Regions from separate parts of the Homo sapiens genome. Here region 2 is linked to region 1. The links come from fine-mapping of genetic effects on gene expression. A gene starts in region 1. The other region holds a variant in brackets. All regions are shown on one strand. Distances are between the middles of the regions.

Region 1 (5,381 bases):
AGCTATTATTGCTCGGGAAGACATTGCCCCCTCGTGGTTCCTCATGTAATTGAGGGAAGCTGGCAGTGCAAAGAGCTGCCAGTTAAGGCAATCAATACATCCAAACACGTGCAAAGTTTCCACATTCACTGTAGCCTTATCTCTTCTGAATGTCTTGGGTTGCAGTTTCAAGAGTTGGTTTATTTTCATCCAGGATACATGTTTGTTCCCCTTAGAGAGAAATCACATTATGACAGCAATTAAAAAAACATGTTTTCCTTATGGAAATCTTCCTGTTTCAAAATCTCCAAACCCCCAAGATAAATCCAATATGTAAATCCAAGTATCACTACTGTTTTTCTCCTCATAATGCCCTTAAAGCAAATATTTTCCTTGCTTTCTATAATCGGAAAGAGGATTCTGAGAGTATCTTGGCTCCATACCACTTTATTTTTTTGTCTTTTCTTTTTTTCCCCTCTGTGGAGAACAGAGTCTCACTATGTTGCCCAGGCAGGTCTTGAACTCCTGGGCTCAAGCAATCCTCTTTCCTCTATCTCCTTAAGTGCTGAGATTCCAAGTGTGAGCCACCATACCACTTTAAACTCCCTAAAGGGAGGGTCCTTATCTGCAACTCCCACAGCCACCCCCGCCCTATCCCCAGCAGCACTTAAACCAAGTATAAAGAATGTCTGGTGGGGGTGGGGAGAAACAGTTAAGCAAATACTGTAGTTGGAAACTGTTACCGGTGCAAGACAGGAGCAGCAGGCTGGGATGGAGAATTCCTGGGAGGAAGAAGTGGGGCAGAACCCACTGATATATGGAGTTCCACATTTATACCTTTGTAGCAGTCAAATCTAAGAGTTTAACACGGTGGCTCCACGTTGTAATCCCATCAGTTTGGGAGGCCAAAAGCAGGAGGATCACTTGAGGCCAGGAGCTCGAGCTCAGCCTGAGCAACAAAGTGAGACCCTCATTTTTCTAAAAAAAAAAAAAACCAAAAAACCATAAGCTTAAATGATCGAGTATTGGAAACGCTTTCTAAGGCCCTGGAAAAATAGAAGTTTTCTTAATAATAATGTTAGCTTCCATGTATTGTAAACCTAAACGAAGCAAGAATAAATGCTGGGTGCTGTATATAGCTCTATCAACCTATAATCACCTCGAAAACTCGAGGAGACACATTCAGCTGCTCCCATTTCACGGATGAGGAAACAAGTACGCAATCCTGAAGCTGGTGCAAAGCCCAGGCCCCCTTTCTTTTTCAAGCGTGCTTCCAGCCTCTGAAGTTCCTCCGTACGGACCCCCAGCTCTGCCTGCAATAAGGAATATTCACTTTGCCAACAAATATTTATTGAGTGCCTGCTATATACCCCTTAGCCCGTTTAAATAGCCGTGGGATTAAAAAGATAAATAGGGCAGGATTTTTTTTTTTCTTCCAGGAAGGAGCTTTCTGAAGGGTGAGGGAGAGGCCAGGTAAACAATCCCAGAACAGTCTGGTGAGAGTTGGGAGAGGAGTCGGGGGGCCGCGGGACGCTCAGGAAGCGAAGCGGGGAAGGCTCCGGGCGCGTCGCAGGACCCGCGCTGGAGATGGGTTTGAAGCCCTGTCCTGAAAAAGCCGGCCCGGAGTGGGCTGTCCCCGGTGTCCCTCGAGTTCTCATGCTGTCATTCAAGCAGCAGAGGAAGAACCGGGTCTGGCTCGGGAAGGGTGGGCTTAGGGCCAGGGGTGCAAATCCCTCGGTAAAAGCCGGCAAACTAAAAGTCGCACACATCCCAGGTCCCGGTCCAGGCCCCGGCGGGGCAGGGTCCCCGAAGTCCCGGGGCGCGCAGACGCCGGGGCCCCCGGGGGCCAAGGGAACGGCGGGACCCGACCTCCCTGCCCTCGGCCTCCCGGGCCCTCGCCCTCCGACCAGCCGCTGAGTCGGGGGCTGGGGTCGCCGCTTCCGCCCGCGGCCCGCTGCCCCTCCCCGGCGCGCGCCATCCGGCCGCCGGCCCCTCCTCCCGCGGGGGGCTCCGTCCCGCGCCCCGTCCCTCCGGGCTGCAGCCGGCAGCCCACGTCCAGGGAGGGCGGAGGGAGGAGGAGAGGCGCGGAGAGGAGGGAGGGGAGAGGGGAGGGAGGAAGGCGAGAGAAAGGGAGCTGCTTCCATCCCGGACTTCCCAGAGCCTGCCTGGAGCGCGTACTCAGCGGCTCTCGGGTCCCAGCGTCCCAGCCGCGGCCCGCGCTCCTCCGCCCCGCTCCTCCTCCTCCTCTTCCTCCTCCTCCTCCTCTCTAGGCACCCCCGTCCCCTCCTTCCAGCGGCTGCAGCCCCCAGCCCCAACTCTCCGCGCTTACTCCTGGGACGCGCGTCCTCGCCCCATCCTTTGCTTCCTTCCTTCCTTCCTTCTTCCTTCCTCCCCTGGCTCCCGCCCTCCCTCTCCAGGTCGCCCTCCCGGGGCCCGATTGTCTCGGTGCCCCGCTCCCGGCCCGCGCCCTGCCCCGTCTCTCCCTTGCACTTCCTGAGTCGCCCGCCGCCGCCGTCGCAGACTCGCCGCGGGAGCCCCAGCCCAACCCGAGCCCGACAGCCACTGCCCCGGCTCCAGCTCCAGCCCCACAGCCCGCGGCGCCCGCCCGAGGGAGCCCCGGCGCCCGGGGAAGGCTCCAGTGGGCTAGCGCGCCCTCGCCCAGCCCCGCGCCCCAGCCCTGCCCGGCCCGGCGAGGAAGGACCGGGAAGATGAACAACGGCGGCAAAGCCGAGAAGGAGAACACCCCGAGCGAGGCCAACCTTCAGGAGGAGGAGGTACTGGGCGGCTCGGTGTGGTGGCGGGGGCGACGCGGGACCCAGTGCGGGCGGCCGGCGGGGCGCGGGCCCGGGGCGCGGCGGTGGAAGAAGGTTCAGGCATGGCCCGTGCCCCGGACGCAGCCCCACAGTGTGGCCCGGGGAGGGTGGATCTCGGGAGCGTGTGTTTTTGTGTCCACGCGCGTCTGCGGGCCCCAAATTGCGTAACTCCAAGGACTTTTCGGAGACTTTTGTAAGTATAATGCTCAGCTTTGTTTGCCCGGGATTTATAAGTGGAACCGAGAGCTGACTCCTGGGTGACCTCAGATAATCGGGACTCGGAGGGTCAGGACTTAGGGCCGGGGCTGGAAATTGTGTATGGATTCAGGGTCGGGGGGGGAGCAGTTTAAGGAAGAAACTCGGGGGAAAGTTCTCGTTAAAAGATACCTCTATTCCCTGCCCCCTCCCTTTCCGTGTTAAAAGTTCTTGGTGAAATATCTTTCTAGCCGAGGTTTTTTGGATTAATAGATAACTCATCAGCCACATTCTTCTCTGCTGAGTCAAAGACCCCGAGCCTGGGCGGTGAACGCTTGTGATTTTAGGGGCCGTGCAGCTGAGGGGAGCAGAGTAAGAGGGTTAAAAACGCAGCAATTCACCAAATGCTCATCGAGGGTATTTTCATAGGACTTTGACTTCTGAGCATGCATTTTAGGTGGTGCGTCCGTAATCATGATGAAAGTTTTGTGACTGCGGAGCGTTCCTTCGGTGGAAACAAAATTGAGTAGATGTGGTCAGAAGGGGAGTCGGACTCAGGAACAAACGTTTCAGAATTCAGTAGGATATTTGTGGTATCCTACCAAATGACTCTTTTTGCAGGTACGTTATCTGGAGTCCAAGAAATTATTTCTGGCGTACTTCTTAACATCCCACACAGTTGAGTTCTTAAACATTCTAGAGGAACTTGAGAGTGTGTGTAGATGCAGGAAAGTGCACGTCTAAATATGACCCGAAAAGATTCACACAGGTATTGGATCCTGATATAGGTGAACACAGAAGGTAAACGGATTCTAAAGCGTTAGAATGTTGAGATCATTGTTGAGACACTATGTTGTGTGCAAACTTCAATTCTGATAGTGAAACCAAAATTGCAGAGGAATTCATTAATACATACAACTTCTCTGCACATTGTCCACTTGGAAAATGGTAACTATTTAGATGGAGAAGGTAGAGGAGCGAGACTATGCCAAACAATGCAAAATAAATAGGAGATTTTACTCGTCACCCAGTTGTATGGTAGTGAAAACCTAAATGAATTGCAGTCAGCCAAAAATTGCTTTTTCACCCGAGGACATTTTCTATTTTATTATAAAAGACTATTTGAAGAGTTGTTTACTTGCATGTTTTCTAATTACAATTGTAGGAATGCTACTGGCATTTCTTTTTTCAAAGCGATGGAGAGTTGAATGGTGTGTTCTGATTTTTTTTCTTGAACTTTACTGGCTGCTTTGCTATTTATTTTCCCTACCACTTAAAAAAATTTAAAAATAATGACAAGTGTGCTTTTTTAGGAATTACCATATTTAACTAATTCACTTACCATATCAAGATAATCATCGCTTCAGAAATCTTTCTGTTTCAGCTAGATGTGCAATCTGTTTGCTTCTCAGGGTTAGAATATTATATGAAACCATCTTTCTTTATTCACCCAGTTGAGAAAACTTTTTTTTTTCCTTTTGGTAGGTAGCAAAAGAGGTTCAATGTCCTAAAAATCATACCCACATTAAAATTAAGTATAGAAAAGTCACATTTTTCTGCTTGACCCCTCTTAACAGCTGCCAGGACCAAGGGATTGCCTGCCCTGTTCCTGGACGCTCCTCCGTCCTTGTGAGGTTGTGTATAATAATCGCTGTATAATCGCGGGCCATTGCAGTACAGTTGCTGCCTCTTACTTGTCCTGTTATCTGACAGCGTTCCTTTTCAGGTAGGAATGGCATGTGGCTCTAGAAAGTATCGGTCTTTTTAGCAAAACACTTGTTATGTAAAAAGTAAGGGGACACGTAGGAAGATTTCAGAACCCAAGTTGTCCAAGAGAGATGTCGTGTACAAAACAGTTAAGACCGTGAAGAGAGGGGGGTTTATAATGTCAGAAATTGAGGAAAAGAAACTAAGGTGGCCTGAATGATCCAGGTAATTTTGCCTTAATTTCCTATTTTTGGTTTATATTTTGTTCTTGAAAAACTCTTAACCTCTTTTTTGTTTTTTTCTTTCTAACCCTGAAAGCCACAGGTAAAATAAATAGAGTATTAGGTGAGTGCCATTAATGTGCCCGGCATTACACAAAACCACTGCACTGACCCTTTCCCTGCCCACCCATTGTATCAGCAACTTGCTCTTAAGCACATTTAAAAACCTTGGCGGTGGACTCCAGTAAACAGAACACACACATACAACATAGATATATACACGTAATGACGAGAGGAAAAATGTGTTTCGTTGTAATTTCTGGTAGCCATTGAACTGACATGGAAAAATGAGTCCAATCATCATTAAGGGAAAATAGTTTATTTCACAGATCATGAGGGTGGTTTGGGCTTTCTCCACATTGTAGAACCCAAGTTTGTTTTTTTCTGTGTTTCTAGTTTCGAAACG
Region 2 (5,381 bases), 90 kb after region 1:
AGAAAGAAAGTATACATCCATACAAAGATTTGTACATGAATGTTCATAGCCATTTTATTTGTAATAGCCAAAACTAGAATAACCTAAATGTCAACATGTGAATGGATAAACTGTGGTGTATCCACACTACAGAATACTTCTCAGTAATAAAAAGGAATAGACTGTTGATACATTCAACAACATAGATGAATCTCAAAGTAAATTTCACTTCATGCTAAGGGAAAGAAGCCAGATGAAAAGGGTACATACTCTGTGGTTCCCTCTGTATATGTAAGTGTTTGAGACATATATACTAATATAAAGAGATCAGAGCAGTGATTGCCTGGGGATGGAGAATGGTGGGACAGAGTGGGAGGAAGGATTAAAGGGGCATGAATAAACTTTTGGTGGTGATAGATTGTCTTGGTTGTGATGGTGGTGATAGATTGTCTTGGTTGTGATGTTTCTTAGGTTATACATATGTCAAAACATCACATATTTCAAGATGTGTAGTTTATTATATATCAATCATAACCTCAATAAAGCTGTTTATAAATATATCATAAAATAAGGCATTCAGAATTCTGGGGCTATTTACATCATTATAGTGTTTATCAAACATACTTACATGCAAATGGCATGACATTTTACTGTGTACTGTGCTGGGTCAATAAAAGGGCCTTGCTTGGTGATTCGCACTTCTGTGTAACAGGAAACAGTGAAAAGTGTTAGGAATCTAGAAAAAGCCAGGCGAGGTGGCTCATGCCTGTAATCCCAGCACTGTGGGAGGCCGAGATGGGAGGATCTCTTGAGCTCAGGAGTTTGAGATCAGCCTGGGCAACATGGTGAAACCCCATCTTTACAAAAAATTAGCCAGACATGGTAGCAGACTGTCTGTCTGTCTAATATTCTCCCCATCTTTCACTGAGGAAAAATCTTTCATGTATATATTCATGGTTAACAATTGAACAATTGAGCATCGAATTTTCAATCATGTTGCATCTGTGTTTGAGTAGAGAAAAACAAATAGAAAATATGATGATAATTCAGTAGCTACTCCTTGCCTATTGAATCAAGATCAAATTCCTGAGCCAGTGGCTTTTGATGTTTTGTGTGTTTGACCCTAAGCTTCTTGTTTAGTTTTGGCTTGCCCTTCCCCAAGAATGTTTTCTTCTTCTCCTACTTCACTGCCTTGGTGAATCCTTTTCTCTGCCTGTGATTCTTAGGGATCCCACCTCATCTTTTGGCTCTATTTGGTAAATGCCCATCCTTTCGATTCTTACTCAGATGCTTTCTCTGGTGTTTCCCCTGTGTTCTGTGTTTTAGTAGACACTAAGCACATAGTGTGTACCCTACACTTTGCACTATATGTATTTACATATGTGTCTTGAATGACTTTTATTAGTGGCACCGTAGCCAGGTACCTTGTACATGGTGGCCTATGTGTTGATTGTGCCTTAAACACAGTGGGTGGAAGACAGTATGGCGATTCCTCAAAGATCTAGAAGCAGAACTACCATTTGACCCAGCAATCCCATTACTGGATATATACCCAAAGGAATATACGTCATTCTGTTAGGAAGATACATGCACGTGTATGTTCATTGCAGCACTATTCACAATAGCAAAATCATGGAATCAACCCAAATGTCCATCAATGATAGACTAAATAAAGAAAATGTGGTACATATACACCATGGAATACTATGCAGCCACAAAAAGGAACAAGGTCATGTCCTTTGCAGGGACATGGGTGGAACTATAAGTCATCCTCAGCAAACTAACACAGGAACAGAAAACCAGACACCACATGTTCTCACAAGTGGGAGCTGAAGGATGAGGGCACAGGGACACATGATGGGGAATAACACACATTGGGCTTGTCGGGGGCTTGAGGGGAGGAAGAGCATCAGGAAGAATAGCTAATGGTTGCTGGGCTTAATACCCAGGTGATAGGTTGATCTGTGCAGCAAACCACCATGGTATGTGTTTACCTTTGTAACCTGTACATCCTGCACATGTACCCCAGTACTTAAAATTTAAAAAACAACAACAACAACAAAAATGCAATGGGAACAATAGTCAGTGAGGTTGGCCCTGCTGTTTTGGAACCGAACAGATGAAGAGTTAATGCATTTTGGTTACTATTTAGGTGCATTGGGCTTAACTTTACTTTTACATTTATTAAAGTTATTGTAATTAATGCCTATGAGGAAAGCAGCAACAAAACAAGCAGGAGGAAACAAATTGTTTTTATATTATTTTTGAAGCACATTATATAGGCGATATATTTAGGGCAGAGGAGTGGCAGATTTACTGTGCTCATGTCATTTTTTTCTTAAGCTAATATTTAAATTATATGGAACCTCCCCCCATCCTTCACATTTTTAGAAGTGTGCAATGGCTAGTTGGGAAAAGTTAGCTTGTAAATTTAAATCAACTAGATGTAATTCACTCTGAATAATTCACATAGAAATATTCAAGTGTTGGCTTAGGGGATGTACCTTAAGATTACACAGAAGGCTGCATCTCCCCTAAAATTTAAAAAGGAAAAAAAAGTGTTGGCTTAGTGGCATCTTAACAGTGAAGTATTCGTTGTATCATGGAAAGAGCATGAATTTAGTATGAGTTGTGGAATATTTGGAATAATATGTTTCTGAGATATCAGGTGAGAGTTAACTCTCTGGAGTGTCCACACCCTTGATCACTTCCTAAATTTATTTTTCCAGGTCCGGACCCTATTTGTCAGTGGCCTTCCTCTGGATATCAAACCTCGGGAGCTCTATCTGCTTTTCAGACCATTTAAGGTACCTTTTTTTATCTTTCAGAAATTATAAAATGAGACAAAAGTCTGTATGCTTTCTGGGAGCTTTTTGAAGCAAGAAATGAAATATTTGAGAAGAAAACAGATGTTTTTAAAAGGTTAATGAGTAAAGGAGATTTAACAACTGAGTTCTAATGTACAGTCTCACTTAGGATAATTACATATTTATATTTCAAATGCAGTAATGTAAGTGAAGATTTATTTCTAGTTTCATACCTTATTATTTGAAATAGTACTGTTGATACTGTTCTTTGGAAATGTAAATAGGTTTTTATGAACTGAGTTAAGAACCTAACCACCGTTATTTTTTCCATGGCAAAACTTTCAAACAAAGTAAAACAAAATTTTAAAGGATACCTAGGTGTAAGTTGATGGTAATATTTCCTGGTGTTTATTGAAATATTTAATGCAGTTACCTGTCCTTCCTATGGAAATAAGATCACTTGATAGATACTTAATGTTGCTAGGATTGAAAA[C/G]TTCATAGGAAATTAAACACCAAGCACTTCGTAGAAACTAAGCCAAAATAGCCTTGCTGCCAAGAAGAAACCTTTTGAAGGTTGGCCTTTGGAGGATAGGAGAAAGCTGGAGCTGATCGAATCGGGGCCCTGGAAGGGATATGTTCCTTCTCTGGAAGGGCCTGTGCTCAGGAAGTCTTAAGTTGGTCAGTGTGGATGTGTTAGCAGCAGTGCCTGGCAGAGACCACACTTATGATTAGGTGATGGGCTGTCTTGATTTCTGGTTAAAGATCATTCTCACTGAAGCAGGTCCCCAGTGATAGAGGCATGACAGGTTGAGGGATAGGATTCAGCTTCTTAGGAAGACGGAATTGGATATGACAACTAAAAACTCTAGTGTTGGGGAGGAGGAAGGAGGGATGCAGGGGCAGCCAGTTAGAACCAACAAAGATAAAACAGTCTAGCTTATGTGCCAAGAGGGCACCATGTCATAAGGGACATAAGTCCACCTGACAGCCATCGCTTTAATGCAACAATAATGATGATGGCACAGGGAAACAGAGGTCAGGTGCCAGGTCAGGTGGGAGGAAGTGGGAAAGGAAGAGAAGGTGGTATGGAGAGAGTGCCACCTTTTATAGAATTTCCTGAGTTTCTTCTGCCGGGTTGTACTTTTATAAAAAGGACCATTTTTCTATCCTTTTTATAGAATGCAAACTTTTAACGCAAATTGATCTTCTTAGTGTATAAAATACTGTTATGTTTTGGGGTGTATAGAGAGAAAGACATTCACCAGCAAGCCCTTTATATGAATTATTAAAGTATTGTCACAATCCTTTCAAGTGGGTGAGTCTCATTTTTTCAAATGAGGAAAATGAAACTTGGAGCTGAATAAATTGTGCTCAAGTTTACACACATAAAAATTGGCAGAGCCAAGATTCAAACCAAGCAGTCTGACTCTGCCCTCTCTGTTCTGAACTATTATGTTATACTGCTTTTCTGTTTGTGACTTGAGAACACAGTATATCCCTACCAGTGGTGTTTTACTTGAGTGAAATATCCAGTTGTCCTTTGCCTTCAAGACCTTCATGGTGTTTAAACCTCTAGTTTTTTCAGAAGAGAGCACCTTGAAGAAAGGAAGAGGCAGAGCTGTGAATCATGACCTCTCTGGCCATAAGAGCTCAAGGCCTTTGAGGTGAAATGTTTATAGTAGCTAATTGGTAACATAGTTCTCTGCTGGGAAGATGTAAGGATGAATCAATCTCAACATCCTGCCCAGAAACCCCGACTAGAAAGTCAGCACCCTAGTACATTCCTGACAACCCTCTTTTAATTAAAGTCCCTGGAGGCTGACCCTAGTCTGCAAATCTGTCTCTGCGCTGATGTGTGTAGTGGTCAATCACGTCAAGTGGTGTGTTTTTCCCCTGTGTCGTCCGTTAATGCAAGCCACCAGCTATTGATTATTTTCAGAAATAAACACATTTTGTTATCCTTATCTTGAGGAGCCGGGAGGGGTGAAGAGAGGGAGTGAAAGAGGGAGGGAGTGTTTCTGTCTTCCTTGAGCATGAGCTGGAATAAAAACCTGAAGGGATTATTTTTGCATGTCCCCATCAGAAGAGCAACATGAAAACTGGTTCCTTCAGTAAGTTAGCAAAGTAACTCAACAAAATTCAACATCATTGCCTGCTTAACCATTTCTGGCAGTTTTGAAAATGTGGTCAGGGAGTTTTACCAACTATATTTTTTTGAGACGGAGTCTGGCTGTGTCTCCCAGGCTGGAGTGTAGTGACGCCATCGGCTCACTGCAAGCTCTGCCTCCCGGGTTCATACCATTCTCCTGCCTCAGCCTCCCAAGTAGCTGGGACTACAGGCACCCACCACCATGCTCGGCTAATTTTTTTGTATTTTTAGTAGAGATGGGGTTTCACCACTTGTCGATGGTCTCGATCTCCAGACCTCATGATCCGCCCGCCTTGGCCTCCCAAAGTGCTGGGATTACAGGCGTGAGTCACCGCACCCAGCCCCAACTATATTCTTAATGTTTTATTGTTGTTATTTTATAGCAGCTACATGACCAATACATGGCTCTGACCTTCCTGTTGTATTAAATTTACCCTCTTTCCTTG

Evidence for each region.
Region 2: its variant is fine-mapped to the expression of RBPMS in nasal epithelium (TOPMed, PIP above 0.99).

Annotation. Positions count from the first base shown.
Region 1 is chr8:30,382,406-30,387,786 of GRCh38, forward strand. RBPMS (RNA binding protein, mRNA processing factor) reads left to right here and starts at 2,136. Exons shown (of 9, transcript NM_001008710.3): 1 at 2,136-2,753. The coding sequence starts at 2,688. It overlaps RBPMS-AS1 (RBPMS antisense RNA 1), which reads right to left and starts at 2,996. Exons shown (of 3, transcript NR_046205.1): 1 at 2,739-2,996; 2 at 1,139-1,292; 3 at 1-210. RefSeq lists enhancers at 1,923-2,593, 2,594-3,265.
Region 2 is chr8:30,472,071-30,477,451 of GRCh38, forward strand. It overlaps RBPMS (RNA binding protein, mRNA processing factor), which reads left to right. Exons shown (of 9, transcript NM_001008710.3): 2 at 2,709-2,786. Among named protein-coding and RNA genes, the nearest start is that of RBPMS-AS1, 89 kb to the left of the region's middle. RefSeq lists a silencer at 3,699-3,890. The variant C/G (reference allele first, on the strand shown) is at 3,280.